Regions from separate parts of the Homo sapiens genome. Here region 1 is linked to region 2. The links come from fine-mapping of genetic effects on gene expression. A gene starts in region 2. The other region holds a variant in brackets. All regions are shown on one strand. Distances are between the middles of the regions.

Region 1 (15,218 bases), 34 kb after region 2:
GGCTGGAGTGCAGTGGCACAATCTTGGCTCACTGCAAGCTCCGCCTCCCGGGTTCACGCTATTCTCCTGTCTCAGCCTCCTGAGTAGCTGGGACTACAGGCGCCCGCCACCACGCCCAGCTAATTTTTTGTATTTTTAGTAGAGACGGGGTTTCACCATGTTAGCCAGGACGGTCTGGATCTCCTGACCTCGTGATCTGCCCACCTCGGCCTCCCAAAGTGCTGGGATTACAGGCATGAGCCACCGTGCCTGGCCTAGTATTCATTTTTTATTTTTATTTATTTATTTTATTTATTTATTTTGAGACAGAGTCTTGCTCTGTTGCTTAGGCTGGAGTGTAGTGGTGCAATCTCGGCTTACTGCAAGCTCCACCTCTTGGGTTCAAGCGATTCTCCCACCTCAGCCTCCCGAGTAGCTGGGGTTACAGGCATGCACCACTACACCCAGCTAATTTTTGTATTTTTAGTAGAGACAGGGTTTCACCATGTTGGCCAGGCTGGTCTGGAACCCCTGGCCTCAAGTGATCTGCCAACCTCAACCTCACAAAGTGCTGGGGTTACAGGTGTGAGTCATTGCACCTGGCCCAATATTCATTTTTTTAAAGTTCCTTCTGACTTCCCTCTTTAGTCTGACCATTTTTTCATTTCACTGTTTCTCAGAAAAGAGCTATCTGACTTGTGAGTTGGTTGTGACATTAATTCTAGAAAAATGATATACAGCTTGACAAGAATTCTGTGCATTTCTCTCTTCTTTTGTTTAAAAACCATAGATTTTTGTTATGAAAACTTAAAAATACAGATAGAGAAAAACTGGAGTAATTTCTCTCTACACATCAGCTAGAGTCAGCAGTTATCAGAATTTTGCCACGTGGCTTCTTTTTTATATCTGGAATTTATTTTGAGAATTTAGTTCTTTTGAGCAGCCCAGTTTTCTTGTCATCAGATCACACTGCCTTCAGTTATGCTATTTTTTAAGTAGGAGTTCTTTAAAAATAGAACTCATGAGTCTTAGATTTCTAAAGTGTTCTTTCATGGAATCCTGCTTTATATCTTACATACTGTCTCCTTTGGAAATCTGGCTAGAGATTTTTATAACTTATGCAACCTGGTTTTTTAGATAGTGATAGTGGTAGGCTCTCACTTTTTAAGTTTATATTTTGCTCAATATTCACAGAATCACAGATTCTCAGAATTTGAAGGGATGCAGTTACTTAGCTGACAACTTCTTCTCATAGGTGAAATAGAAAGATTTGATTTGAACTATTTATTATACCTTTAAACAAACCTAAACCATGAGAGAAACATTGATTTAGAATCTGAAAAAAGCTATGATTAATATATGTTCTTTGTAGTAACTTGAGAAACTACAAAAAATTATGAAGATGAAAAATTAGACGTAGCTACTAAAATTACCTACTCAGAAACAATCATTTATATTGTGGCATATTTCCTTCTGCCCGTTCTATATTTAGTAAAATGAGTACCAGCTTATTGCATATTCTACATGTACTTTATTTTTCTACATACATTTTCATGTTATGAGCAATATATTTTGGTGACCTACTGCACACTGAGTGTAGGTTCTAGAGACCGCAGAGTTGATGACATCTAATCAAAGTTACCTTTGAAAAGTGCCCTCTTAATCATGAGCACTTTTGTAAGCTTGAAGTTCAATAATTATCCAGTTTTGATCTTTTTGCATTTTGGATGTAGCCTTCCTTTCTATCCCTCTCTGAACAGTCGGGCAAGGAAGGGGAGAGATTTTCCCCTTTTGGCGCTTATAGCCAAGTTGGAGGAATACAATTCTGGTAAAATGTGGCTCCGGATTATGAGTATTTAGTTTGTTTGATTGCTTTCTTCCCCCAAGGACTGTGATTTACCCTCTCAGCATATATCCAGGGGTGATAGTCAAAATGTTAACATCCTCAAAAATTCTGACCAGAAGCTCCCTGTGCTGAAAATTTCCAAGGTGGGGAGCTTTGGCAAGTGATATTTGGGCAGGTTGAGGTGGGGCGGGGGGACTCAAAGAAATAGTTGTTTAACTACAGATATGTAAGTATTTCCGTGTTGTAACAGCTAGTGTGGCTGAGAACAGCCAGTGACATGTCAGATTACCGAATAAAACCACAAAAGTGGGGTAGTTTATGGGCTCCAGGTTTGAACATGGGCTCTACCACTGAGGACCTGTGTGATTATTTTGTTTAACCTCTTGTTGCCTCAGTTTCCTCACTGGTAAAATGACGATATTGATAGTATCTATTTTGTGAAAGCTATTGGGGGGATTATATGAATTTGTAGTTTGTAGAATGGTACCTTTCATAAAGAACTCTTTGTTATGTTTGTTAAATACATTTCTTTTTCCCCATTAGATGGATTCCAAAACAGATGACTTTCCACATCTTCAAATCAGGCTTACCTTTCCTTGATTCAACCTGCAGACCTCAGTCCACCAGCTATAAACACTGCCAGTTATGAATCTTACAGTAATTTGTGGATTCTTATTGTGGTCAGTGGAGAGAATCTGGGACTTACCTAACTCTCTAGAAGTAGTTTAAAAGGGCTAATGGTGGCTACAAAGTCACATAAACAAAATTTAGGTTAAAAGTTGGCACACGTATAAAGTGGGAGATACAGTTTAAAACTCATTTTATTCTATTAAAATTTTGTATCTTTTTTAGCCTAAAGAGTTACAATTTTCATTTATTTAAAATAAACCAACTTTGAAACAGAAACAGAGCACACATTTCTTAATTTAAAAAACTATACTGGCTAACAATTTAGCGAACTTGGTGCGGGAAATGGCACAGTAACAGCTTCATCTCTTCCTACCAAGAGAGGTAGGAATTATAACATTTTAAATTTCTGTGTTGGAAAATTTATTCATTTTAAGATTTTTTGCTGTTACTTAAATTTTACTGAACTTAGTTTATTCCTGAATTATCAAAATATATGCTATTTTAGCTATTTAGACTACTTTGACTTTGTATTAGTTTTCCATATTTCTGCTGTAACAGGTTACCACACACATAGTTGCTTAACACAACACAAACTTATTGTCTTACAGTTTTGGAGATCAAAAGTTTAAAATAAAGGTACCTTCTGGAGGCCAGGCTCACCAGCCCTCCTTTTACATCTTCAAAGCTAGGAGAGTTGCAGCTTCTCTTTCTATTTCCCTTTACTTCTGCCATCACGGTGTCTTCTCTCCATGTTTCTGACTCTGTCCTTCCTGCCTCCGTCATATGTGTCCCCCTGTGATTATATCATTGAGCCCACCTGGGTAATAATCTCTTTATCTTGAGACCCTTAACCACACCCGCAAAGTCCCTGTTACTGTGTAAGGTAACATATTTGCAGGTCGTAGGGGTTAGGACATGGACATCCTTCAGGGCCAGTCATTCAGTTTACCACAGTGTTCGTTTTAATTTTTTCTCAGCGCCCGTCATTTGGTTTACTTCATTTCAAAAAGAAAAAAAATCTCTCCCCGTTGAACAAAAGATGCAAAGCGATTGAGAGGGTCCAAAGTTATTTTATTGATCAACTGAATAAATATACATAAATGTTACTTTCTTTTTCTTTACTTTATTTTTTTTTCCCCATTCCAGATCCTGGGTGTTTGGCTGACCTACAGATACAGGAACCAGAAAGACCCCCGCGCGAATCCTAGTGCATTCCTTTGATGAGAAAACAAGGAAGATTTCCTTTCGTATTATGATCTTGTTCACTTTCTGTAATTTTCTGTTAAGCTCCATTTGCCAGTTTAAGGAAGGAAACACTATCTGGAAAAGTACCTTATTGATAGTGGAATTATATATTTTTACTCTATGTTTCTCTACATGTTTTTTTCTTTCCGTTGCTGAAAAATATTTGAAACTTGTGGTCTCTGAAGCTCGGTGGCACCTGGAATTTACTGTATTCATTGTCGGGCACTGTCCACTGTGGCCTTTCTTAGCATTTTTACCTGCAGAAAAACTTTGTATGGTACCACTGTGTTGGTTATATGGTGAATCTGAACGTACATCTCACTGGTATAATTATATGTAGCACTGTGCTGTGTAGATAGTTCCTACTGGAAAAAGAGTGGAAATTTATTAAAATCAGAAAGTATGAGATCCTGTTATGTTAAGGGAAATCCAAATTCCCAATTTTTTTTGGTCTTTTTAGGAAAGATTGTTGTGGTAAAAAGTGTTAGTATAAAAATGATAATTTACTTGTAGTCTTTTATGATTACACCAATGTATTCTAGAAATAGTTATGTCTTAGGAAATTGTGGTTTAATTTTTGACTTTTACAGGTAAGTGCAAAGGAGAAGTGGTTTCATGAAATGTTCTAATGTATAATAACATTTACCTTCAGCCTCCATCAGAATGGAACGAGTTTTGAGTAATCAGGAAGTATATCTATATGATCTTGATATTGTTTTATAATAATTTGAAGTCTAAAAGACTGCATTTTTAAACAAGTTAGTATTAATGCGTTGGCCCACGTAGCAAAAAGATATTTGATTATCTTAAAAATTGTTAAATACCGTTTTCATGAAA[T/G]TTCTCAGTATTGTAACAGCAACTTGTCAAACCTAAGCATATTTGAATATGATCTCCCATAATTTGAAATTGAAATCGTATTGTGTGGCTCTGTATATTCTGTTAAAAAATTAAAGGACAGAAACCTTTCTTTGTGTATGCATGTTTGAATTAAAAGAAAGTAATGGAAGAATTGATCGATGAATTAAGTGAGGTGGAATTCTTTTCTTTCTGCTTTAGCTTCTCTCTGTTGGACTTAGAGCTGGGTATTGCTATTTTAGTGTATAATCAAGCTGTGGAAATAAATTTCCAGCATTAATGTCTATTGGTAGTCATCCTCAAATCCTTTCTTGAAATGTTTCAGTGGCTAATATTATCTCCATGGTGAGAAAAAGTTTTTCTAAAAAGAGAAGCCATTAATATTTATTTGGGAAAAATATATACGTTCTTTCCCATTACGAAAAATTATTAATTTCTTGTTTTACATTCTAGGTAGCATGTGGTATTTTATTGTCTTACTAGGTTTTTAGACCGAGAGAGGGTAAATGGTTGATCTGTAGAGTTTTAGAGCATTTTGTAGGTTTGTCACTTCCGTGACTTTGCAACACTAGCTAATTTTCCAAGGAAACAGAATTGTGCCATTTTCACAATGTCCTATGAGCTCTGGGGTAGCCCTAACAGTGTCCCCACTTATACCATAAGATGGGATTATAAGTGACATATGAAGGGAGATTTTATTATTATTTTTTATTATTATACTTTAAGTTCTGTGATACAAATGCAGAATGTGCAGGTTGTTGTTACACAGGTACACATGTGCCATGGGGGTTTGCTGCACCTATTAACCTGCCATCGAGGTGGGAAGTTTTAAAATTCTGTCTTCCTTTAAGGCATTTGGCATTTTCCATGTTTGTTTTGTTACATTTTGAAATTATTATAAGGCCCTGGAATCTCCTAATGTAATACTTTCCTTGGTACAAATGATTATATGTGGAAAGGCTATTCCATAGAGAATCAGCCCTTACCTTGGTTTGTGCTCTAATTGCAGTGCCCTTATTTGGGTCAACACAGTATGCTTCATGCTGAAGTTAAATGATGCATCCTGGAAATTCTAACAAAGGAAGGTCTCTTCTTCTGTTCAAATATAGATTGACTGATGTCAGCCTTCCTCAAGTGTGTTACTTAAAAAGCAAAGTGCAAAGAGAACAGCTGTCAGGGTGAGAAGTCTAAACACATTTTTGAAAGTAGCCTGGTGCTGACAAAATGCATTTAATCGTGCTCAAGGCTTCATGAAATTGAGTTCATTAAATTAGGATTTTAAATCATTATGGCTAAGAAAAACATGTATATCTAAATATTAAATAAAACAAAATGTAAAGATATCTAAGATGTTAAGATTTTAGTAAAATAAGTTAATGAAAAAGAAAGCCAGGGTCTGGGAAGTATGAATATTTAGGACTACTAAACTATGGGATTATAAGAGTGGGTAATGACAGTTAGCCACTCAAGAAATACACATTTTCAAGCACCAAGGTTGTCCTTGTCAAATGAGTCTGGGCTTTCTGTTTTCTCTGGCAGATCTGAAGGTGATAGATTACCTAACACCTTCTGTGATGCTTCCTGGGATCTTTGTGTCGGGGTGCATATTTAGTGGAAAACCCTCTGAATAAGTCAGTCCTGAATCCCAGATGGCCCTGCTATGATCCTGCAAAGGTCATCCTGATCCCAGGATTAGAGAGGGCCACTGCCCAAGGGCACAGAAATGCTGCCATAAACACGTAGTGTCAGAGGAGGATGAGTTTCAGATCAGGGTAGACCCTAGATGTCCTTTCTTCCCAAACCTAGCATTTCTTTAAAAAGGAACTGTGCTGCTTAAAAAAATCTCTTCTCTATTTGCACATTCCATTTATAGGAATGTTTTTTGGCACATTTGCCCGGTCAGCCTTGATGTTAAGGGTTAAATTTTATATAGAGAATATAATACTAATACAAAGGAAGAAAGAGTTCAGCTATAATTTCTAAAATCTGAGCTTGTTGTAGCTTAAATTCATCTCAGATACTCTGTTATCTAAGCAACAATGTGTTTGGTATGAAAACCAGTTTCGCATGTTCAACCTAAGTTACATGCTGCTGAATGGAACCTTTCATAGAAGGAAAGGAAACCAGAAGTGTGGCTTTTAGTTCTTCGTTTCCTTGAGCCAAAACCTCCTCCTACAATTTTTCTAAATATTTGTTTAACTCTGTTAAAGTTTATTCATTATTTTGCAAATACACTAAATACGTCAAACTGTTTCAATTTTTAGCTGGTACTAAAAAAGTTAGAATCAAATTTTTCCATAGTATTTCATAGGAGAAAAACACTTTTAGTCACTGTGGTTGTACAGACATGATCATTCATGTGTGAATTGTTTTATTAGAGATGACAATAAAGTTAAAAACCAGCTTTTCCAGGGTTCTGGATAAGTGAAGGGATTGGTGTAAAGTTTTGTTCTGTATTTGGTACGTTTTGGACTAAAATAATTTTTAGACCAGGCTTTCTGTGCCAAATGAAATTACAATATGTGTTAGTGAATGTGTTCTAAATAAATTTAAGAGTGCAATCCACCCTTTCCCCAACACCTCCACTCCACGAGAAGAGGAGAGGGAGAGAAGGGAACGGGGCTTGTCATGTGGATGTTTTTCTTAAATGTCATAACTGAGCAATTGTAGTCATTGAAATACCTCTTGAAAATATGAGAAAGGGGAAAATCAAACTCTGCCATGTGGCAGGCCAATTCTCATCACTCTCCTTAGGAAAACCAGCTTTTGGAATTCATTTTCAAATGAGGATTTGAGGCCTGTGAGTTAAAATATATGTCAAAGAATGGACTTTGACATCACTTGGGGGGTGAAACCACTTTGCCTACTTTTAGGATCTTGCTTTTCATAGATCAGGGAGTCATAACTTGACAAGTAGCCTTTTAATAGGTTAAGCTGACTTGACTTGGACTTTGAAGTCAAGGTCCTTGAACTGAAGGAAGTTCTATTCTTGCCTTAGAGCTTTTAATGATTTTTCTCCTGACTGGTATTCTTATCAGTGATTGCTAGTTAGAGGGTTCTCAGTAGACTACTTAGAATTGCTGAATTCAAGAAAGAAAGAAAACAGATTTAGACAGTCATGGAAGATCACTTGAAGAAGACTGTTGTTCCGAAATTGGTAAAAATGGTTTAATTAGGCATGTTGACCGTCTGTGTAAATGACGTTTACAGATGATTTATGTTAGCTACATTTTTTTAACAGTTAATTCCTGTTTTTTTCTCCCTAAGCTATTGAATCTCAGATAAAACTGAAATTTTTGTTATTGTGGTAAATACATATAGCATAAAAGCTATCATTTTAACCATTCATAAGCTTGTAGTTCAGTGGCAGTAAGTACATTCATATTGTTATGCAACCATCACCACCATGCATTTCCATAACGTTTAATCTTCTGTACCCATTAAGCAATAACTCCTCATTCCCCTCTTCCCCTGGCAACCTGCACTCCACTTTCTATATGAAAACGATTCTGGGTACCCCATATGGGTGAAATTGTATAGTAGCTGTCCTTTCGTGACTGGCTTATTTACTGAGCATAATGTCCTCAAGGTTCATCCACGTTGTTACATATGCCAGAACTTTCTTCTTCTTTTTTTCCATTGACATGGGGTCTTGGTATGTTGGACAGGCTGGTCTTGAACTCCCGGGCTCAAGCAGTTCTCCCACCTCCACCTCCCAAAATGCTGGGATTACAGGCGTGAGCCACTGCGCCCAGCCATGAATTTTCTTCAAGATTGGATAATATTTCATTGTATGTATATGTCACATTTTGTTTGTTCATTCATCCATTGATGGACACTTGAGTTGCTTCCACCTTTTAGCTATTGTGGATAATGCTATGAGCGTGGGTGTATAAATATCTGTTCCCTGCTTTTAGTTCATAAGCATATACCCAAGAGTGGAATTACTGGGTTGGATGGTAGTTCTGTATTTAATTTTTTGAGAGACCACCATATTGTTTTCCACAAAACAAAAATGGCTGCACCATTTTATATTCCCACTATGTTATTAACATTTTTATTTGGCTGTTTGAAATAGCACTCTTCAGTCTTCTAGTACTCTTCTACTTCTCTGTAGTCAGAGAAGTAGTCAAGATATACTTTCACTTGAAATTTATTTAAATGCAAATGATAGATTGTGAGATGACAGAAGAGGGATTTGGTAGAAAGAACAGACATTGCTAATATTTCAATGAGTTTAGAACAACCATGTTTGTATCTTCTATTTTTTTTTTTTTTTGGAGACAGAGCCTCTCTTTGTCACCCAGGGTGGATTGCAGTGGTATGGTCTCAGCTCACTGCAACTTCCGCCTCCCTTGGTTTCTCATGCCCCAGCCTCCCGAGTAGCTGGGATTACAGGCATGGGCCACTGTGCCCGGCTAATTTTTTTGTATTTCAAGTAGAGTCGGGGTTTCTCCATGTTGGCCAGGCTGGTCTCGGACTTCTGGGCTCAAGCGATACGCCTCCCAAAGTGCTGGGATTACAGGCATGAGCCACCACGATTGACCTCAATTCTGTTTTTAACCTTGTATGTACACATTTCCTGTAGTTGCAATTATAGCATAGAAGGTCTTAAATTCTTTTTTACTTAGGCCTTTTCTGTTTTGCCATTATGTTTATTATTTTTATGGATGACAACATAGTGCATTTTGTCTTTTTTTTTTTTTAATTTATTTTTTTTTATTGATCATTCTTGGGTGTTTCTCGCAGAGGGGGATTTGGCAGGGTCATAGGACAATAGTGGAGGGAAGGTCAGCAGATAAACAAGTGAACAAAGGTCTCTGGTTTTCCTAGGCAGAGTGTGTGTGTCCCTGGGTACTTGAGATTAGGGAATGGTGATGACTCTTAACGAGCATGCTGCCTTCAAGCATCTGTTTAACAAAGCACATCTTGCACCGCCCTTAATCCATTTAACCCTGAGTGGACACAGCACATGTTTCAGAGAGCACAGGGTTGGGGGTAAGGTCATAGATCAACAGGATCCCAAGGCAGAAGAATTTTTCTTAGTACAGAACAAAATGAAAAGTCTCCCATGTCTACTTCTTTCTACACAGACACAGCAACCATCCGATTTCTCAATCTTTTCCCCACCTTTCCCCCTTTTCTATTCCACAAAACCGCCATTGTCATCATGGCCCGTTCTCAATGAGCTGTTGGGTACACCTCCCAGACGGGGTGGTGGCCGGGCAGAGGGGCTCCTCACTTCCCAGTAGGGGCGGCCGGGCAGAGGCGCCCCTCACCTCCCGGATGGGGCGGCTGGCCGGGCAGGGGGCTGAGCCCCCCACCTCCCTCCCGGCGGAGCAGCTAGCCGGGCAGGGGGCTGACCCCCCACCTCCCTCCCGGATGGGGCGTCTCGCCTGGCGGGGGGCTGACCCCCCCCACCTCCCTCCCGGACGGAGCCGCTGGCCGGGCGGGGGGCTGACCCCCCCACCTCCCTCCCGGACGGGGCGGCTGGCCGGGCAGAGGGGCTCCTCACTTCCCAGTAGGGGCTGCCGGGCCGAGGCGCCCCTCACCTCCCGGATGGGGCGGCTGGCCGGGCAGGGGGCTGACCCCCCCACCTCCCTCCAGGACGGGGCGGCTGGCCGGGCGGGGGGCTGACCCCCCCACCTCCCTCCCGGACGGGGCGGCTGGCCGGGCGGGGGGCTGACTCCCCCACCTCCCTTCCGGACGGGGCGGCTGGCCGGGCAGAGGGGCTCCTCACTTCCCAGTAGGGGCGGCCGGGCAGAGGCGCCCCTCACCTCCCGGACGGGGTGGCTGGCCGGGTGGGGGGCTGACCCCCCACCTCCCTCCCGGACGGGGCGGCTGCCGGGCGGAGACGCTCCTCACTTCCCAGACGGTGTGGCAGCCGGGCGGAGGGGCTCCTCACTTCTCAGATGGGGCGGTTGCCAGGCGGAGGGTCTCCTCACTTCTCAGACGGGGCGGCTGGGCAGAGACGCTCCTCACCTCCCAGACGGGGCGGCGGGGCAGAGGCGCTCCCCACATCTCAGACGATGGGCAGCCGGGCAGAGAAGCTCCTCACTTCCTAGATGGGATGGTGGCCGGGAAGAGGCGCTCCTCACTTCCTAGGTGGGATGGCGGCCAGGCAGAGACGCTCCTCACTTCCTAGATGGGATGGCGGCCGGGCAGAGACGCTCCTCACTTTCCAGACTGGGCAGCCAGGCAGAGGGGCTCCTCACATCCCAGACGATGGGCGGCCAGGCAGAGACGCACCTCACTTCACAGATGGGGTAGCGGCCGGGCAGAGGCTGCAATCTCGGCACTTTGGGGGGCCAAGGCAGGCGGCTGGGAGGTGGAGGTTGTAGCCGAGATCACACCACTGCACTCCAGCCTGGGCACCATTGAGCACTGAGTTAACGAGACTCCGTCTGCAATCCCGGCACCTCGGGAGGCCGAGGCTGGCGGATCACTCGCGGTTAGGAGCTGGAGACCAGCCCGGCCAACACAGCGAAACCCCATCTCCACCAAAAAAATACGAAAACCCGTCAGGCCTGGCGGCGCCCGCCTGCAATCGCAGGCACTGGGCAGGCTGAGGCAGGAGAATCAGGCAGGGAGGTTGCAGTGAGCCGAGATGGCAGCAGCACAGTCCAGCTTCGGCTCGGCATGAGAGGGAGACCGTGGAAATAGAGGGAGAGGGAGAGGGAGACCGTGGAAAGAGGGGGGGGGGGGGGAGGGGGAGGGGGAGGGGGAGGGAGAGAAGAATTTTTATGACTACTCACCTAGACAGGATTAAAAAACTGCATTTTGTCTTAATATACCATGTGGCCATTATATTTTTGGGAGGTTGCTTTTCTGTGGTACGTTTAAATAATGTTACCATTGGCATCTTGACAGAACTGTTTCTGTTGAATGATTTCCTTAGGATAAATTCTCAGTGGTGGAGGAGACTGATGGGACAAAGTCAATTAATGACTCATGCTTTGTGTTTCTTCAATGCTTTTAAAAGGGGGACTTATTTTCCTTACAGCTGTAACATTTGATTTCCTAAATATTTATTTATATTTAAAAAGTATTTGTATGTGTTAAGATATTTTGCCATTCAATACATTTTAAGAAGTTAACCTTATTTCACGTCCGCCCAATGAAAAAATATTTTGCTATACTATAGGAGAAACTTGAATCACTTAGAACTTGTCATTTAAAATATTTGTTTATGGAAGGGAAACCTCTTTTTCCTCTTGTTATCCCTCAGAGATCTTTTTAAATGGAATGTTTTACCTTTTTCAGCACATGTAAGTTATCTACTTGTGAGAAGGGAGCTGATTAACCTGTGATATTTTTGCTGAAGATTTGTATGTCATTAAATCAGCAGTATATGCTCAACACCTACTAATGATAGTAGTCACTAGGAGAGATAGAAAAGATTGAAAATATATCCCTGGAAAAATTAATAATGCCAAAAGATCTGTTCAAAAAAGGTTTTATCCAAAAAAGTTAATCAAGACAAGCAACAGATACTGCAAAGCATTATATACAGCACCATAGTCCAGGGGCCAAAGAAATCAGGAGGGGCTGGGCAGTAGAGGAATTCCATATATTAATGAATGTGAGATTAAGTATAGAGTGAAGACATTAACACACAATTCTAATTTCTGTTAGGCAGAATGCTCCCCTACCCTGATGCCACAGCCTTTCACGTTTCCTAAACCCTAGTAACCTCTGATCTCCATCTGCCTCATCAACACGTCACCACCCTTTGCTCTTCTTCCAATTAGTCACATGTTGGCTGAATTTATTTCACTCCAGTACTTTAGGACCTTGACAGACAAATCGATTACAAGGTCAATTCCCAGGATTTCTTCAGGGTGTGTTCAGGAGTGCAGATGTTCTTTGGATGACCTTTCTACTAAATTAGACCTCTGAAGGAGAAAGCTACTTGCCAGAGGCTTTCCCTGAGAGCATTAGGTTGGGCAAAATCTGACTAAAATTTAATTACTAAATGAAAGTGTGTACCTTAGAGTTCCTGGCCAGAGTTGACTCTAGGTAGTGATGTGATTTTCTTGGGATGTTTTTCTAAATATTCTTTTATGCTAAAGCACATGGCTTGATACTTCTGTTGATTAAGCTCGTGTCTACTTACAGTCATCTAGTGAGAACCTGTGGTGTGGTGAGATGATAACTTGGTCTTTGGTCTTCATCATTTGAACTAGTTTTGGTTTTGTCTTGTCCCTTCCTTGAGCATTTTGTGTGTGTTTAATCCTATTTGGTAAACGAACCACTGTGAAAGACCAAGTTGGAGAAAACAGAACACCCCCAAAACATTTATTTTTTTTTTTAGAAAATCATGGCTCACTATGGTAGTATACAATATTGTTTTCACACATGTACACTTGAAACCAAATTTCTAAAACTTGTTTTTCTTAAAAAATAGTTGTTGTAACATTAAACCATAACCTAATCAGTGTGTTCACTATGCTTCCACACTAGCCAGTCTTCTCACACTTCTTCTGGTTTCAAGTCTCAAGGCCTGACAGACAGAAGGGCTTGGAGATTTTTTTTCTTTACAATTCAGTCTTCAGCAACTTGAGAGCTTTCTTCATGTTGTCAAGCACTAATGGGGGATAAAAGCAGGAGAGTCAAGACACCATCGTGCGTTATATCGATATAATAAACCCCAAACTTGGATGCTCAATTCATTATTTAATGGGATGCTTTTTTTTTTGAGACAAGGTCTCACTCCCACTCAGGCTGGCATGCAGTGGTGCAATCTCCACTCAGTGCAACCTCTGCCTCCTGGGTTCAAGTGATTCTTCAGCCTTAGCCTCCTGAGTAGCTGGGATTAGAGGTGTGCTCCACCATGCCCAGCTAATTTTTGTATTTTTGGGAGAGATGGGGTTTTGGTATGCTGGCCAGGCTGGTCTCGAACTCCTGAGCTCAAGTGATCCACACACCTCGGCCTCCCAAAGTGCTGGGATTACAGGCGTGAGCCACTGTGCCCAGCCTGATAGGATGCTTTTTATCATGAGGTGAATAGTTGGTAATCTTATTGTAATTTAAAAAAATTATATGAAATGGCTTTTGTGACAATCTAGTTTTCTAGTGTAGTCATTCCTTCCCAGATCCTTCATCTCCAACCCTCACTTCCAAAAGAATCCTTTTATAAGCTCTAGCAGCAGAAGATAATTTTGGCTCATTTAGAAGTAAATTTAAATCATGTTTAAAAGAAATGTCTATTAGTAGGTGTGTGTAAATTGTTTTAGAAGTAGGGGAAATATAAATAATAGCAAACCAAGTGCTTTATGCAGATGAATTCTTTAATCCTCATACAAACACGATTAGAACTTTATATATACATAATGAAACAGGCAGAGAGAGGCTGAGTAGCTTGCTCAAGGTCACACAGCTAACAAGTAATGGAGCTACTGTTCCAGAGCCCAAACTCTGGGTCACTGTTTCTTCAACAGCAATTCATCAAAATGAGGTATGTGATCTACTAAAAATAAGATGTCCACTCGATAGGCATTGAACAGCCGCTTATTCACTCTTCCTACAAATCTTAATTATTAAGTGCCTGTTCTACAAGGGATTGTGATATTACTTGTGTAGGACACGTGCCTTTTAAGAGCTTAGTCTTATTAAAATGTATGGTATTATCTCAGTAATGGCTGACAGTACTTGGAATGTGCTTCCCCTGGTCCAGCACACACTGGAAACATTGCTAATGGACCATGATGATCTCTCCTGCTTCCTAGACACGGCCTCACTTCTCTTCCCAACATGACGTTCTAAGTCAGCACTGGCCAATAGAAATTTCTGTGATGATGGAAATGTTCAGTGTCCGGGCATTGAGCACTTGGAATATGGCTAGTGTGACTGAAGGAATGAATTTCTAACTTTAACTTAAGTAGCAACATGTGGCAAATGGTTAACATATTGGACAGTGCAGTTCTAGGCAGCCACTACTAATTGATCAGAGTTGGTTCCTAGGATAAAACCCACTTTTCTTCCCAGAGGACTAATCAGATGTCACAGCTAGCTACAGCGTTGCATTGAGGTACCTCATCTGCCTTAAGTCAGTGTCTCTCTCTCTCTCTGTCTCTCTTCCATTGATGGCAACCATAGGGAAGGTAATTTTCTTGGCAATCATTTGGATCATCTTTGAAACTGATCTTTAAACTGAACCTGAATTTAATTTTAAGCTGGACTGCACATTCTTTCACTTTTGTTATTTAAAAAATTAAGACATGCAGATTATTACAATTATTACACTCAGTTCTGTGATAGAAGGAGTGTGTGCTCGTGTACCTAACAGAAAACCTGAAAATCAGGTAATGTGGTCATAGAATCCTCCTAGAGAAAAAGATACCTAATCTAAATAATTCATCTTCAATTGAGATTAAAAACAAACAAACCTGAGATGGAAAGAGTGTGATTTGCCTGAAGATGCAAGGCTAGTTAGGGTCAAACTGAGTCCGAGGCGTCCCTAAGCCTAGCTCTCTCTCACCTCACCATGCAGCCTCTAGTCCCATCACTACAGCAATAGAGGTGTTCAACTCTTGGGCAACATCCGAATTGAAGGTCACACTTACACAGAGCTGTATCTGCAGGTTCGTAAGCATAGAGACGATTTGAATATCTTCCAGTGATATCGGCTCTAACTGTCAGAGATGGGTCTGCAAAGATAAAT
Region 2 (15,218 bases):
AAAAAACTTCATGTTTAATTTGTGGTTGGAAGAAAAACATTTTCTGAAATTGAATTCTGGTTTGAAGTCCTCTGGTGTGAACAGTGACACATCCTGCATAGCAAAAGGGAAACTTACTATTATTGTAGGAGCAATGAATGTGTTGCATTTAATGGCTAATGTTTGGCAATACGTTCAAAAGAGTAGGATAACACAGAGAAAATAGAGCAAAGGGTAGACTTAGAAGGAGAGAGACTTCTGTTGTTGATCAGCTTCTTTGTCTCATTGTCAGCCAAGAAGCTCCCTGCCTATGCTTCATTCAATCCTAAAGATTGCAAATCATTACAAAGGAAAGTTTCCAGTTCTTTTCTTTGTTTGCTTAGGAAGCAGCAGAATCAGAGGAAAAATGGAAAAAGGTGTAATAAAAAATCTGTCATTAGAAAAAATTTAACCGAATCAATCCACTTAAAATCATTGACAGATATTTTTTAAATGGTCAATTTGTTTAATAATAATATTTGATTAGCTAAGAAAATATTACACTGAAGTTTATAGCAATGTGGACTATAGTTGAAGCAATTTAAAATTAACTATACCACTGATATTTTATGTGGCTATAACTTATCTATGATAAACAATTAGATAAGCAATTATAAGTTTATCTAATTTCATGTTTATATTTTGGAGGTCAAGAAAGTATTTTGGTAGGGTCGGTAACAGTGCTGTATAACAGTTTAGGAGTAATTTAGCTTAGGATTTATTGAGGACGATCAGATCCTAGTGTTCAATTATTATTATTTTTTTCCTCCTATGGTCTTGTCTGAAAAGGATTGAATAATATTTGGGATTTTTTTTTTGTTTGTGTGTGTTTGTTTTTTAGAGAAAGGATCTCCCTATGTTGCCCAGGCTGGACTCAAACTTCTGGGCTCAAGTGATCCTCCCACCTCAGCCCTCTGATTAACCAGGACTACAGGCATGTGGCACTTCACCTGACTGCCATGTTGAATTATTTAAAAATAAATGTTGACCTTAAGTTTGAATAATAAGAATTTCATAAATTTGAGTTAATGTCAACTAAACCTTAACCATGAAAAGAGTTTTACAATAAGAATTTTAAAAATCTGGCCAGGTGCGATGGCTCATGCCTATAATCCCAGCACTTTGGGAGGCTGAGGCGGGCCAATCACCTGAGGTCAGGAGTTCAAGACCAGCCCGGCCAAAGTGGTGAAATCCTGTCTCTACTAAAAATACAAAAATTAGCTGGGCATGGTGGCACGTGCCTGTAATCCCAACTAGGCAGGAGGATTGCTTGAACCTGGGAGACGGAAGTTGCAGTGAGCCGAGATCGCACCACTGCATTCTAGCCTGAGCGACAGGGCGAGACCCTGTCCCCCGCAACACAAAAAAAAAAGAATAAAGAAAAGAAAAGAATTATTAAAATCTGAAATTGATTACCCAGTGAAGTGAGAGAATTTTCTTCCCTGATAAAATGATGAAGACTGCAAAACTGAAAGATGGTTTGAAATGTGACTAGAGAAATCTTTGTAGAATACAGGGAAAAAATGTAATCAGAATTATTTTTCAAGAAAATGTACTTCTCAGATCTATTGTGGGGAGCATAAATGAAGCCAGTCCCATGTTATACTCTGAAATCCATCACAGCATTTGTGCTGATATTTCCAGCCTGTGACAGCGTGGCAGGAACACTAAGGCAGGGTCATTCCAGGAGAGCATGTGGGATTTCTCTGACATCTGGCTTGGACTCCCTGTTGGCCTTGCCAAATCTCCTTAAAACTGCACTGCAGTCATAGACCCTTCCTTCCCTCCTCTCTCTCCCCTTCCTTTCTTCTCTTGCCTTATTCTCTCTCTCCTTCACAGATGTCAAACCTGCACTGTGGTCTTTTAGCTCTCCCAGCCTCCAAGAGTTCCCTCCCTATTTCCCCTCATGGACATTTCTCCTAATTAATTGCTTGCACATCTAACCCAGTTTTGGCATCTGCTTCTCAGAAGATCTAGACTAATGCACAAGAATTCTGTTATTGCCCTGACTCAAAAACATGTATATATACGTATATACATTTTTAAAAAGTATATATATATATATATATATATATATATACTTTTTTTTTTTTGAGAAGAGTTTTGCTCTTGTCGCCCAGGCTGGGTTACAGTGGCACTATCTTGGCTCACTGCAACCTCCACCTCCCGGGTTCAAGTGATTCTCCTGCCTCAGCCTCCCAAGTAGCTGGGATTACAGGTGCCCACCACCACACCCTGTTAATTTTTTGTATTCTTAGTAGAGACGGGGTTTCACCATGTTGGCCAGGCTGGTCTGGAACTCCTGACCTCAGGTGATCCACCCACCTCGGCGTCCCAAAGTGCTGTGATTACAGGCGTGAATCACTGTGCCCGGCCTCAAAAACATATTAAACGAGCAGGAAGAAGAAGGAGAAGGAGGAGGAAGAAGAGGAGGAGGGGAGGAAGGGGAGGAGAAGGGGGAAAGGAGGAAGAGTGGGAAAAGAGGAGGAAGAGGAGGAGAAGGAGGAGGAAGGAAGCGTACCGATCTCCTAAATTGTTAGAAGGTCATCTCACATTAAAGATTTATTCAGAGACTAAGAAAGTATATGAAAAATTGATGTTTGTCTTTGTTATTCCTAATTGAAAACTGTTAAAAATAGTTTGCTTATGTAGTATATATACATATATATATATATATTTTGCTGTTTGTTTGTTTTTTTAGACAGAGTCTCACTCTGTCACCAGGTTGGAGTGCAGTGGCGCAATCTTGGCTCACTGCAACCTCCACCTCCCAGGTTCAAGTGATTCTCCTGCCCCAGCCTCCTGAGTAGGTGGGACTACAGGCGCCCACCACCACGCCCGGCTAATTTTTTGTATTTTTAGTAGAGACGGGGTTTCACCATGTTGGCCAGGATGGTCTTGATCTCTTGACCTCTTGATCCACCTGCCTTGGCCTCCCAAAGTGCTGGGATTACAGGCGTGAGCCACCGTGCCTGGCTGTAGTATATTCTTATAATTTTATGCTGCCACGGCATACATTTTGAAATTGGACTCATATCAGAAGCAGGGCTCAGTTTCCAGTTCTACACCTTCCCAGTTCCTCAATGTGGCCAATCCACACATCTACCTTATACAGCTTCCTCCTGGTGACCACCTCCCAGTGGGACGGCTATTAATCAGTGCAGCCTGCCTGACTGGCCCGCTGAGCCTCACTACCTGCATGGACTGTGCAGACATGCCACAATGACCACCTGTCAGTCACTGTGTGACCTCCTGGCAGTCATGCCTGCTTGTTATGAACTCACTAATTAAAACTCCCCACGGGAAACCCCCGGAACCAATAAGGGCACTTGCCCACAGACCCCCCTCTCTCCCCCTGCGCAGACTCCTGGATATCTCTGTGTGTGGCCTCCAGGCATGCAGGTACCCAGTAAGTAATAAAACCTTTATTTCCATCTTGTGTCTCTTCTAATCATTGGAGGAGTACTCTACATCTTAAAGATCTTAAATTAAAACAGTTTAGAAGGCCAGTTTTTAAGAAATACAATTCAATTATCCATTCTATTGATTTTGTGGATAAAGACAACTTTATTGTATAAAAATAAAACCTTGGCCAGGCCCGGCGTCTCACGCCTATAATCCCAGCACTTTGGGAGGCTGAGGTGGGTGGATCACCTGAGGTCAGGAGTTCCAGACCAGCCTGGCTAACATGGTGAAACCCCGTCTCTACTAAAAATACAAAAAATTAGCAGGGTTTGGTGGCACGCACCTGTAATCCCAGCTACTTGGGAGGCTGAGGCAGGAGAATTGCTTGAACCCGGGAGGTGGAGGTTGCTGTGAGCCAAGATAGTGCCGTTGCACTCCAGCTTGGGCAACAAGAGTGAAACTCCATCTAAAAATAAAATAAAATAAAATAAAAGCTCTCCTTCCACTCAGAAATATATGTAATCTCATAGCTTAGTCTCCAGTATAACTCTGTGAGAAGAACTGTAGTCCAGTGTCCCATTCTTTTTTTCACTTAAAAAAAGGCAGTTTTTCATCAAAGGAACAATATGGAGGCATAATATGAAAGAAGGACATTGCCTATGGCAGATTTTATTTTCTAAAGACACCACAGTACGTCTCATCACATATGCTCTTCCAAAATGTGGCCTTGCAAACTTGAAGAAAAATAGAGCCTGAAGTAAATAATATTTACTCCCAGAAAATGGCACATCCCTTATTCTGTCAGGCTGCTGGTGTGGTTGCCTAAGTCCATCTAAACTATAGTTAAGCTGAATTAGGGTTTGTTATAGGTTTAATAGATTCAGTTCATTATTGGCTTCAAATATTCTTGAAGGCATGATCAAGACTTTCCTCTTACAGAAAGGAGGTCTGCATAGAGATTTCTTCGTGCTTTGCAGCCTAGCCACCAGCAATCTGAGCCTTGGGAGATCTTTGTGCTTTACAGCCTGCTACCTTTTTGTTTGCTGGGGAATAGTCTTTGCTCTCCACTCACATCCTTGGCTTTCTGTATCTTGTGAGATCTCTTGCTATCCTGTGTGGAATCCTATTCCAGCCATTGGAGGGCTCTTTCAGTGTACCATAGAGAGAGTTTTCTTTTCTGCTGCTACGTTAGTCCTGGAGTTAAAGAACCAGATTGCTTTGCTGGAATTTTTCTTATTTTTCCTCACTTTACCCCAGCTTTTAGCCACTATCTTGCATTTGGGGAAGGCTTATACACCTTGAAATAGTTGGAGATGAAGAATATCTATTAGCACTTGACATGGTTTGGCTGTGTCCTCACCCAAATCTCAGCTTGAATTGTATCTTCCAGAATTGCCAGATGTTTTGGGAGGTACCCAGGGTAGGTAATTGAATCATGGGGGCCGGTCTTTCCCATGCTATTCTCGTGATAGTGAATAAGTCTCATGACATCTGATGAGTTTATCAAGGGTTTCTGCTTTTACTTCTTCCTCATTTTTCTCTTGCCACCACTATGTAAGAAGTGCCTTTCGCCTCCCACCATGATTCTGAGGCCTCCCCAGCCATGTGGAAATATAAGTCCAATTAAACCTCTTTTTCTGCCCAGTTTCAGGTACGTCTTTATCAGCAGCATGAAAACGAACTAATGCAGCAATCTTGCCTGACCACGGCCTTTGTAGCTTATATGTCTTGTTTTAAAAGAAAGCCCATGGGTTAGAGCTGGCAAATAGTTGCAGTCATTCTGTAGCTGGGGCTCTGGATTATAAACTGTCACATAGTCCAGGTAGGGGCAGTAGAAGATGGTTAAATAGTCATTTAGTTTCTCCTTATCCCTCTCAAAGGTAGTTTCTCCCTTCCACAGCCAGTCTATAAGAGATGAAAGTGACTATGAGTTTTTTTCCCCCTCTAATAATGTCTCATCACTTCTTGGATTTTAGTTCCTCTAGTGCCTTTAGCCCCTCAGTTCTTCGATAGTTTTTTGTTGTAAGTATGATTTGGTAGCTTATCTAGCTTGTTTTTACTTACTTTGAGACAGGGTCTTGGTCTGCACCCAGGCTGGAGTGCTGTGGCGCCATCATAGCTGACTGCAGCCTTGATCTCCTGGGCTCCAGCAATCCTTCCCCCTCAGGCTCCTGAGTAGCTGGGATAGCTGGGATTACAGGTATGCACCACCACACCCAGCTAATATTTTCAATTTTTAGTAGAGATGGGGTCTCACTATGTTGTCCAGACTGCTTGTTCTTATTAGGGTGGGAACAAATGGTCTTTTGAAAATTTCTATATCCAAATCAGGAGAAATTGCAACATGTCCATTTGTTTTCCTATTTTCAGACATTGTTTTGTTTCCTCTATCAAAAGCCGTATCTCCTATCAGACAACTCTCCTACAACTATAGCTCTTGCCTGGCTTCTGTAACTGTTCCCTTAAATCACCCCCTTAGTCTTAGGGGTAATTAGAACTTCCTGCTCTTACTATCTCTGAGCTGCCTCATCATGCTTTGTTGGTTTCCTTTTCTTTTTGAGACAGAATTTCACTCTGTCACCCAGGCTGGAGAGCAGTGGCGCGATCTTGGCTCACTGCAACCTCCACCTCCTGGGTTCAAGTGATTCTCCTGCCTCAGCCTCCCAAGTAGCTGGGATTACAGGTGCCCGCTACCACGCCTGGCTAATTTTTGTAGTTTTAGTAGAGACGGGGTTTCACCATGTTGGTCAGTCTGGTCTCAAACTCCTGACCTCAGGTGATCCACTACCCTCGGCCTCCCAAAGTGCTGGGATTACAGGTGTGAGCCACCGCACCCAGCCGGTTTCCTTTAACTTTGTCCACACTTTTGAAAATAGTCCCTTTTTGAAATTCTTCTCAGTTATGCTATTTGAACGAGTCATCTCCTTTTTGCTGGGACCCTGACTGATAGGTGGTACTTCTCTGGGAAAACAAAGTGATTCAGCCTATAGGGAGATAGTGAAGATATTATGCAGAAGCCAAAGAGAGAGTTGCAATAGTTGGTTGAGTGATAGTTGAAGTGGTACTAATGTTGGTGACACCCAGGAATGGGAAGAGAATGAATAGATTTCCCTGCCAATGCCTCATCTTTTGTAAACCTCTGGCTATTAAAAAGGAAAGTTGAGCATCATCAAAGCATTGTTTGTGTTTGAGGATCATTTTCCAGGTTAGTTTTTGAAATATTTCTAGCTGTATATAAAAGGTTAATGTGGAATAGAAAGCCTAACAAATTAATGAGGTCTTGTTGGTATGGTGGGGTCAGGGGAGGGAAGGAGAGGCTGGAAGAGGGAGCAGAGAATTCTAAGAAGACGAATTATTTTAATCAGCTGCAATGTTTAATTTAATTTAATACAATTTAGCATTTGCAATTACATAATTTACTCCGTATGAACCTTTAGGTTAGATATAGTATTGTAAACTTGCAAATCTCTTTATAAAACCTTTTTCTTTGGTAGAAACTACTATGAAGTAAATAAACCTTTATTGCCTTCGCTTAGTGCCTGGAACACAGTAGGCCTTTACAAAATGTCAGATCTATGAATACTAGCTGACATTTATTGAGGCCTTCCCCTGTGCCAGCCACTATGCAAAAAGTGCTTGACATACTTCTAAAATCTCAATTTATAGGTGAGGAATTAAGGATACAAGATGCATTTCTATAGTAGAGAAGCAGTAAACTGATAATGAATTAATTGAGGTGAAGTCTGAGTTATTTGAAGATTTTCAGTTATTTTTGTGAAAAAATAAGTTTATTGAAATTCACGACCAGAACACAAAAATAATCTCTCTTGATTTTCTTTTTAAAATTTTTTAAAAAACTTTTGTTGACACGTAGCAGATGTATATATTTACGGGGTACATGAGATGTTTTGATACAGGCATGCAATGTGAAATAAGCACATCACGGAGAATAGGGTATCCATCCTCTGAAACATTTATCCTTTGAGTTACAAACAATCCAATTACATTCTTTAAGTTATTTTAAAATACACAATTAAGTTCTTATTAACGATTGTCACTTTATTGTGCTATCAAATAGTAGGTCTTATTCATTCTTTCTATTTTTTTGGACCTATTAACCATCCCCACCTTCTCCCGCTCTTGATTTTCCTTTGCATGCATGTATTCATAAAGTTTATTAGTATTTTGCAAATCTTTGTAGGATAAGTCTGACCTGTCCAGGTCACAATTATAGGGCACATATCTTATTTTCTGAGAGAAGCAGGGATTTTATTTTATTTTTTATTGTTTCACTTATTTTCTCCCTTTCATTTGCCTCTACTTCGTTCTCTTTTAAATCTTTCACATGTTTTCATTCATTACTTGCTTCCTGCCTTCCTTCCCTCAAACAAGGCCAGGTGCTTAGTTTTGAAATCTCATTCAAAATGGTGCCACGTCATCTGCCAGGGCCAAGAATCCAGAGGTGCTGTCATATTTCTCCTTGCCAGCGTGGATCTCCTCCGAGCCCCGCCCTCCCTCCTCACCTGCTCCTGGGGAAACTACACCAAGGCCGCCGCTCTGGCCTGGGGCTCCCTCCCACACGGCCTTGGCCCTCTCCCCCTCGCCCCGGGACCGCTCCGCCCCTCCCGGATCCCGGTCGGCGGAGCGCATTTATTTGCATATTTCTACCTTTGTTCCCTGCCAGCGGCCAATCAGCGCGCGGGGCGAGACGAAGGGGCTGGGCGGGGCTCGGGCTCCTGCTCCGGCTCAGCTGCGGCGGCCGCAGGTTCCAAAGCGGGTCCGAGCCGCCGCCGCGCGCGCGCCGCGCACTGCAGCCCCAGGCCCCGGCCCCCCACCCACGTCTGCGTTGCTGCCCCGCCTGGGCCAGGCCCCAAAGGCAAGGACAAAGCAGCTGTCAGGGAACCTCCGCCGGAGTCGAATTTACGTGCAGCTGCCGGCAACCACAGGTTCCAAGATGGTTTGCGGGGGCTTCGCGTGTTCCAAGAACTGCCTGTGCGCCCTCAACCTGCTTTACACCGTGAGTATCCCCAGTCCGTTCCTGCTCGCTTGGGGGCTTTGCACCTGCTTGGGAGCTCTTTGGCTTCCCTGCCTGGTCAGCGACTCACTCGTTGCATCCCGCGCCCCCTTCCCGGCTTCCCACGTCTGCGCGCCCCCGGCCTCACCATCCGTCCCCGCCGGGGACCGGGCGCCGGCGCTTGTCGCAGTCTCTTCCTTTCGTTCATTGTGAAGCCGCGGTCTCTCAGGCTCGCTGGCCGCGTCTCTGCCACATTGCTCCACCCCGCCCCCTCACCCACCGCCTTGTTTTTCAAACATTCAACCGGACCTCTCCGCTTTCCCACCCCGTACCCTTCTGCCGCTCGCTCCTGACATCCAGACGCATCTGGGCCAGGCGTGGAGGCGCGAGAGCCGTCAGGGCTTGCGGACAGTTTTGCGGAATGGCGTGGCCTGAAACTGACGAGGCGGCATATGGCTGGTGTGCCTCTGGGTTAGCTCTTGGTACCCTCGGGATTTTAATTGAGGCCACTGAGTAGGTTCACAGGATGTCCGCTGCTTCCGAAGTTTGTTTCGTGCTCACAGTAAAGGGATGTCTTTTTGTTTTTGTTGTTGTCAGTTTTGCTAGTACTTGGTGCTTTTTCTGTGTGTCTTGTCCATGATCAATATCCTAACTCCATTTTAAACCAAGTCCTCCAGGAAATAAGCGAGCCCCCACCCAAGTCGTTTCTTTCCCTGCCAACCAGCTTGGGCCTCTTAGTTTTAACGCTGCAGGCTCTCTTTGTGATTTTTTGAGGCGCAATTCTGGGTGAACAGGAGGATGGGCAGGACAGATCGACATTTATTGAATGCCTATCACGTCCCAGGTTTTACATACACAATGCTCGTTCATCATTCTGACAACCTTCTGAGGGAATGGGGCATTATCTGCATTTTATACATAAGGTAACAGACCAAAAAGGTTTTAGTAAGTTTACATAGCTGGTAGTTGACGAGTCAGGAGTGGAACCTAGGCTGTGGAATCCAGATCTTTCCACAGGCTGTCTCTACCGGGCGGAAGAAACTTCCTCTTCTGTCATCATCCCTCCATAGTAGTCTTGCTCCCTTCTATAAATATACCTGGCGCTTTGCAGCACCCACCCTGAAAACAAACCCAGCACCCCTGCATTAGCAGAGAGCTAGGCCATCTGTGCAAGCTTAGATTACCTCCTTGGAATAGAGAGGCTGCCTTGTGGTCACCAACAGGAGAAGGAGGTTGGGTCATTTTACCTTTACTGTTCCTTTGTATGTGAACATGACTGCAAGCTTTGAAGGCAAGACAGAAACAGGCATTGAGTACGCTTTTATGGCTAGTTAGTAAGAATCTGGTCAACATGGTCATTAATAGTAGACTTGGGAAAAAAATTTTAGAACACCTGGTGATACAGTTCCTTGGAGATACATGTCAAGTTTCAGATCAAAATTCATCTGTATCACCCTGAGGTATGCTTATCACCCTGGCTGTTTATTAAGTAAATGCTGACCAGTTCTCTAGGGTTTTTTTTTTTTTTTTTAAATCAGTGTGAGTGGCCTGCTTGGAACTTTAAATTCCTTATTTTGTGACCTGAGTTCTGTTTTTTTTCTGCCAATGATTTAGTCATCTGTTTGCCAGACACTTAGTCTTACAGTGCCTGCTTACACAGAGTGGAATGTCTACTTTGCATACTTACTTCACTGAAGGGTCTATATCAATGTATAATCTTTTTTAAAAAGGCAAGTTATTTTAAAATGAAGTTCCTTGCTTTCTAGACATCATTTTTAGTTGTATTTAGAGTATATCAGGAAAGTGAGGCGAAAGAAAGGTGATTCTAAAGGGACATATTAAGACTATTTAATATCTATTCTAAATTATTGACCTTCAAAGTGTGTGTTCTATTGATTTTAATAGCTATGCAGTAAAACTTAATGAATTGGAAATTCACGGGACAATAAAAATGGCTAGCCCTTTTAAATCATAGACTTTTTAGACAAAGGGACATTTCTTAAAATGAATTAGTGGCTGCTTGCTTCTTTTACATTGTAAATAGGCTTAAATAACTGCAGCAGTTTAAAGTGGAGGCAAGTGACAGGTAAAAGTTGGATCAAGTCTTAGATAGATGCTGAAAATGTGCCATGGCCATTATTTAGCTTCTATTTCTCCCCTGATCTCTTTCTCAACATTTTAAGATGAAAAAAATGTGAGGCAGTTGGGGATGGGATTGAGCATGAAGACTTGGGAGACATTTCTCTATAAGTCATGAATAGAAACATTCTTTGTAGGTTCTAATCCCACCCTGGTCACTGCCTCTAAAATGTGCTCAACGCTACAGGATTACATTTGAGGTCATTTCTAAAAGTGTTGGTTAAACCAGGATTGCATATGGGAACGGCAGATGCCTGAAACATCATCATTGCTGTGTTGAAGCATTTTACTGAGGAACTTAGGACTGTATCAGCTGAACTGTCCACATGCTCTGGTGGCTTGCTGATGAGCCTGAGATTCGTGCCACATTCATGATCAGCTCAGAAAGCATGTCACTAAAAACAAGTTGGAAGTCCCAAACAAGGAAATTTGATCACTAGGCAAAATGTTAACAGTTGATTTTTCTTGTTGTTTATGGCTTGATTATTTTAGTTAATAGGATCGCCAGTACTGGACAAGCTTAAATTAGTGTAGTATGTGTTAACAGTTTGTAAATATAGAAGAAAAGGGGGAAGCTACATTCCTGAATTCACCTTCACAGTATTCTAAGAGAATGACTTGCCTCAGAGCTTCCTGCATTTAAAGAAACTTTCAGTTTCTTCATTCAACAATTATTGAGTGCCTACTGTGTGCCAGGCTCTGTTCTCAGTTTGGAAATACAGCAGCAAACCAAACAGGGCGTAAAAATCAATGTGCTTTTATGAAGGCTCTTTTTTATTTACTACCTTTTATACATATGTTTTCAGGAATTGTATTCAGTCAATAAACTTTTGTCTACTGTGTGCACTCTTTTGAGAACTGTGGGAAATAATAAATACCTATAAAGGCAAATGCATTGTGAAGACAGGATCTAGATGAGAGACATGGAATGGGAAAATTAAATGGCGTATAAGGAATATACTGACTTTAGGTACCATAAAATTTAGGACTGTGGCAGATATTTGTGGGTTAGAGAAGTTGGGGGAATAAAGGAGGTGTGATTGAATCAAGGAAATGTAGAAATAGTGTGTGGGTCTTTTTGATACCATTTAGGATATACATAAAAATGAAAATGATTTGGGAAAATGACTTATTTTTAATAGTTTATAGGAATATTTTAGGCTGAAAAGATTTTGACAAGTAGTGAAAAAAACTTTTGAAAATTATGCTTAGTGATTTGTGGGAAATTTTAGAAAATATGAAATAAAATTTGTATTAAAATACGTAATATTTTGAAGCTTTATAATGTGTCTCCTTGTGCTTCTTAACCAGAGAAGAAAGCTCTATTAAAAACAAACAACCAAAAAAAAGGTAGCTGACTTTGTTAAATAGAACCAAACTGAAAAATATGACCAAACATATATTTACTGGGACTTTTTAAGAGTTGCCCTGCCAGTTTTAAAATCAGGAGGGAAATTTCAGAAGTTGCAGTTTTGTTTCTCCTGTGTGTGTTCATTCTTATAACATCTTTCCATGTTTGTTTCTTTCTCTTTTTCGTGATTCTTTTTCCTTATACTTTTGGTTGTTTTGAGAAAAATTCTCATGCAGCATAAAAATTATACTGAATTACTTCATAAACACCTTAATTTATATTTTTATCACCTCTGAAGTTGGGATGCATTTTATTGTTTCTATTTGTATTTTTGAGATGGAGTTTCACTCTCGTTGCCCAGGCTGGAGTGCAATGGCGCGATCTTGGCTCACTGCAACCTCCGCCTCCTGGGTTCAAGCGATTCTCCTGCCTCAGCCTCCTGAGTAGTTGGGATTACAGGTGCCCGCCACCATGTCCAGCTTATTTTTTGTATTTTTAGTAGAGACGGGGTTTCGCCGTGTTGGCCAGGCTGGTCTTGAACTCCTGACCTCAGGCGATCCACCCGCCTCGGTCTCCCAAAGTGCTGGGATTACAAGCATGAGCACTTTATCTACTATAAAATGCTCCCGGCCTGGGATGCATTTTATAGTAGATAAAGTGTGCCATATCTGTTAGATAAAAAAATACGACCATACAATTTATGGGAAGAAAATTCTGTTTTTAATCTGTTAGATAAAAAACATATGTCCATACAAATTATGGGAAGAAAGATCACTGGATTTATGAAGAAAACTGAAACTTTTCCAACTCTGTTACTAGACAAACAGCTTACTTTGAGTTTCAGTTTCTTCATATATAAATTGGTGATGATATTTTTCAGTCGTCCCCTCATGAAGCTGTGTAAGGATAAAATCAGATAGTATATAAATGCTTTAGATGTATAATAGAAATAAAATTAAGTTGTTACAGCTTCAGGTGGAAAAAGTTGAATTTTGCTGAATTTATAGACTTGGCTTCTTCTTTCCAGCTATTCTTCACAGGTAAAACTTGCATAAAGAAAACTCGTATAAAACAATATTTTGTTACTTTTAGTCTGCAATGATCAAGGTTAAGTGCAGAAGCACAGCTAAATATTTTAAAGCATGAAAGTTGGCATTAGGTTAAAAAGTAGTAATATTAAGTAGGAATTACTTTTATTTATCCACTGTAGAATCGAATATTTCTTGTAATACCCTTTTTTTTTTTTACATAATTGGCCAACCTTTCAAACGTGTCTGTGGGTTTCCTCTACCGTTTCTCTTGAATGAATCTACTTCCTGTAAAATTGTATTATAATTGTAACTGTTTGGGGTTATTTGTGAGTCTAATGTAAGTTTGAGATGTGCCCAAGTTATTTTCTGTTTTTTATTCTAATAATGAATATTAATTGAGCATCAATAGCAGTGAACAAAATCCCAATGGCTTGCCTTCATGGAGTTTATATTTATGGGGGTGGACAGATGATAAATAAGTAAGTAAATTATATATCGTATTAGAAGGTAAACAAGTTTTATGGAGAAAAATAAAGCGGAGTAAAAGGAAAGATAGGTGGGGCAGTGGAGCGGATGTGGGAGGATGGGTACACAGCTTCACATATGGTGGTCATGCTTGGCCTGCATGGAAAGAAAACAGTGTACGAAAGGTGTTAGACTGTTCTTGCATTGCTATAAAGAAATACCTGAGACTGGATAAAGAAAAGAGGTTTAATTGGCTCATGGTTCTGCAGGAAGCATAGTGCTGGCATCTACTTCTGGTGAGGGCCCCAGGAAGCTTACAATCATGGCAGAAGGGGAAAGGAAGTCCCTGTGTCACATGGGGAGAGTGAGGGGGAGGTGCCAAACGCTTTTAAACAACCAGATCTCACGTGAACTCAGAGGGAGAACTCACTTATCACTGAGGGGATGGTGCCAAACCATTCATGGGGGATCCACCCCTACGAATCACCTCCCTCCAGGCCCCACCTCCAACATTGGGGATTACATTTCAACATGAGATTTGGAGGAGGCAAATATCCAAACTGTATCAAAAGGCCTAAAGGAGATGAAGAACAGTTATCTAAGAAAAGTGTTTCAGGTAGAGGGAATCGTCTTTGAAAAGACCCTGATGAAAGAGTATTTCTGCTTTTTTTTCTTTTCTTTCTTTCTTTTTTTTTTTTTTTTTGATATAGGGTATTGCTCTGTCACGCAGTGGCGTGATCTCAGCTCACTGCCAGAGAGCTGTCTCCTGGGCTCAAGTGATCCTCCCACATCAGCCTACCTAGTAGCTGGGACTACAGGCATGTACCACCATACCCAGCTAATTTTAAAAAATATTTTGTAGAGACGGGGTCTGTGTTGTCTGGGCTAGCCTTGAATACCTGGCCTCAAGCAGTCCTCCCACCTTGGCCTCCCAAATTGCTTGGATTACAGGTGTGAGCAACTGTGCCTGGCCAGGAGGAGTATTGCTGGTTTATGCAAGGGACAGATGAGTCAAATATGAGTGGGACAGAGCAAGCAAGCAGTACAATGCAGGAAATGAGGTCAGAGAAGTCAGGGGTGGACCCAGGAGAGCACTATAGGGCCATGAGCTTTTATACCAAGTGAAATGGGGAGCCAATGGTGTGTTTAGGTTTGAGGACTGATATAGTCTGATTTTTATGTAAAAGGCTATATGGCTTTTGAGTTAAGAATATATTATAGATGGCACAGGTGGGAGCATTGAGACTAGTTACAAGGCTATTGCTATAATTTGCACATGAGATGATGGAGGCTTGGATTAGTATGGTGGCAACAGAATTAAAAGAAATAGATTCTGAGAGTGTTTTGGAGGTAGGGCGACCTGATTTACTGAAAGGGACAAGTCACAGATTACTATGATTTGTGGCTCAGGCTCAAGGAATTGGCAGGATAGATTTGCCGTTAACTAGGATGGAGAAGATGGCAGGTGGAGCAGACTTTGGGATGAATGAGAGGATTCAGTATTGGACGTGATGCTAAAGAAACCCAAGTGGAAATGTCAGGTAGCACTTACAGTAACCACACTGTTATTCAGGGGAGAGGACTTGCCAACAAGTTAGTGAGGGTAGATGGAGAAGGGCAGTGGTCCATGGATTGAAGTAGTGCATTTCAAACATTAAGAGATTCAGGAGATGAGGAACATTCAGCAAGGGAGCCTGAAAAGGAATGGCCAGTCAGGTAGGAGGAAAATTGCAGAGAGGTTGGTGTCTCAGAAGTCAAGTGCAAACCATTTCAAGGAGATGGGGACCGAGAGTTG

Which allele goes with the higher level. Alleles are on the strand shown, and positions count from the first base shown. SD is a standard deviation of normalised expression in the study named.
In carriers of allele G in region 1, the expression in testis of the gene that starts at base 8,165 in region 2 tends to be higher than with T alone (small effect, 0.17 SD a copy in GTEx).

Evidence for each region. PIP is the estimated chance that this variant, and not a neighbour inherited with it, causes the effect.
Region 1: its variant is fine-mapped to the expression of TSPAN13 in testis (GTEx, PIP above 0.99).

What each region holds. Positions count from the first base shown.
Region 1 is chr7:16,779,816-16,795,033 of GRCh38, forward strand. It overlaps TSPAN13 (tetraspanin 13), which reads left to right. Exons shown (of 6, transcript NM_014399.4): 6 at 3,602-4,721. The coding sequence ends at 3,676. It overlaps LOC124901593 (a long non-coding RNA gene), which reads left to right and starts at 533. Exons shown (of 2, transcript XR_007060228.1): 1 at 533-1,968; 2 at 2,369-2,731. It overlaps AGR2 (anterior gradient 2, protein disulphide isomerase family member), which reads right to left. Exons shown (of 8, transcript NM_006408.4): 7 at 15,121-15,204; 8 at 11,996-13,142. The coding sequence ends at 13,093. The variant T/G (reference allele first, on the strand shown) is at 4,538.
Region 2 is chr7:16,745,591-16,760,808 of GRCh38, forward strand. TSPAN13 (tetraspanin 13) reads left to right here and starts at 8,165. Exons shown (of 6, transcript NM_014399.4): 1 at 8,165-8,440. The coding sequence starts at 8,378. RefSeq lists a silencer at 10,754-11,048.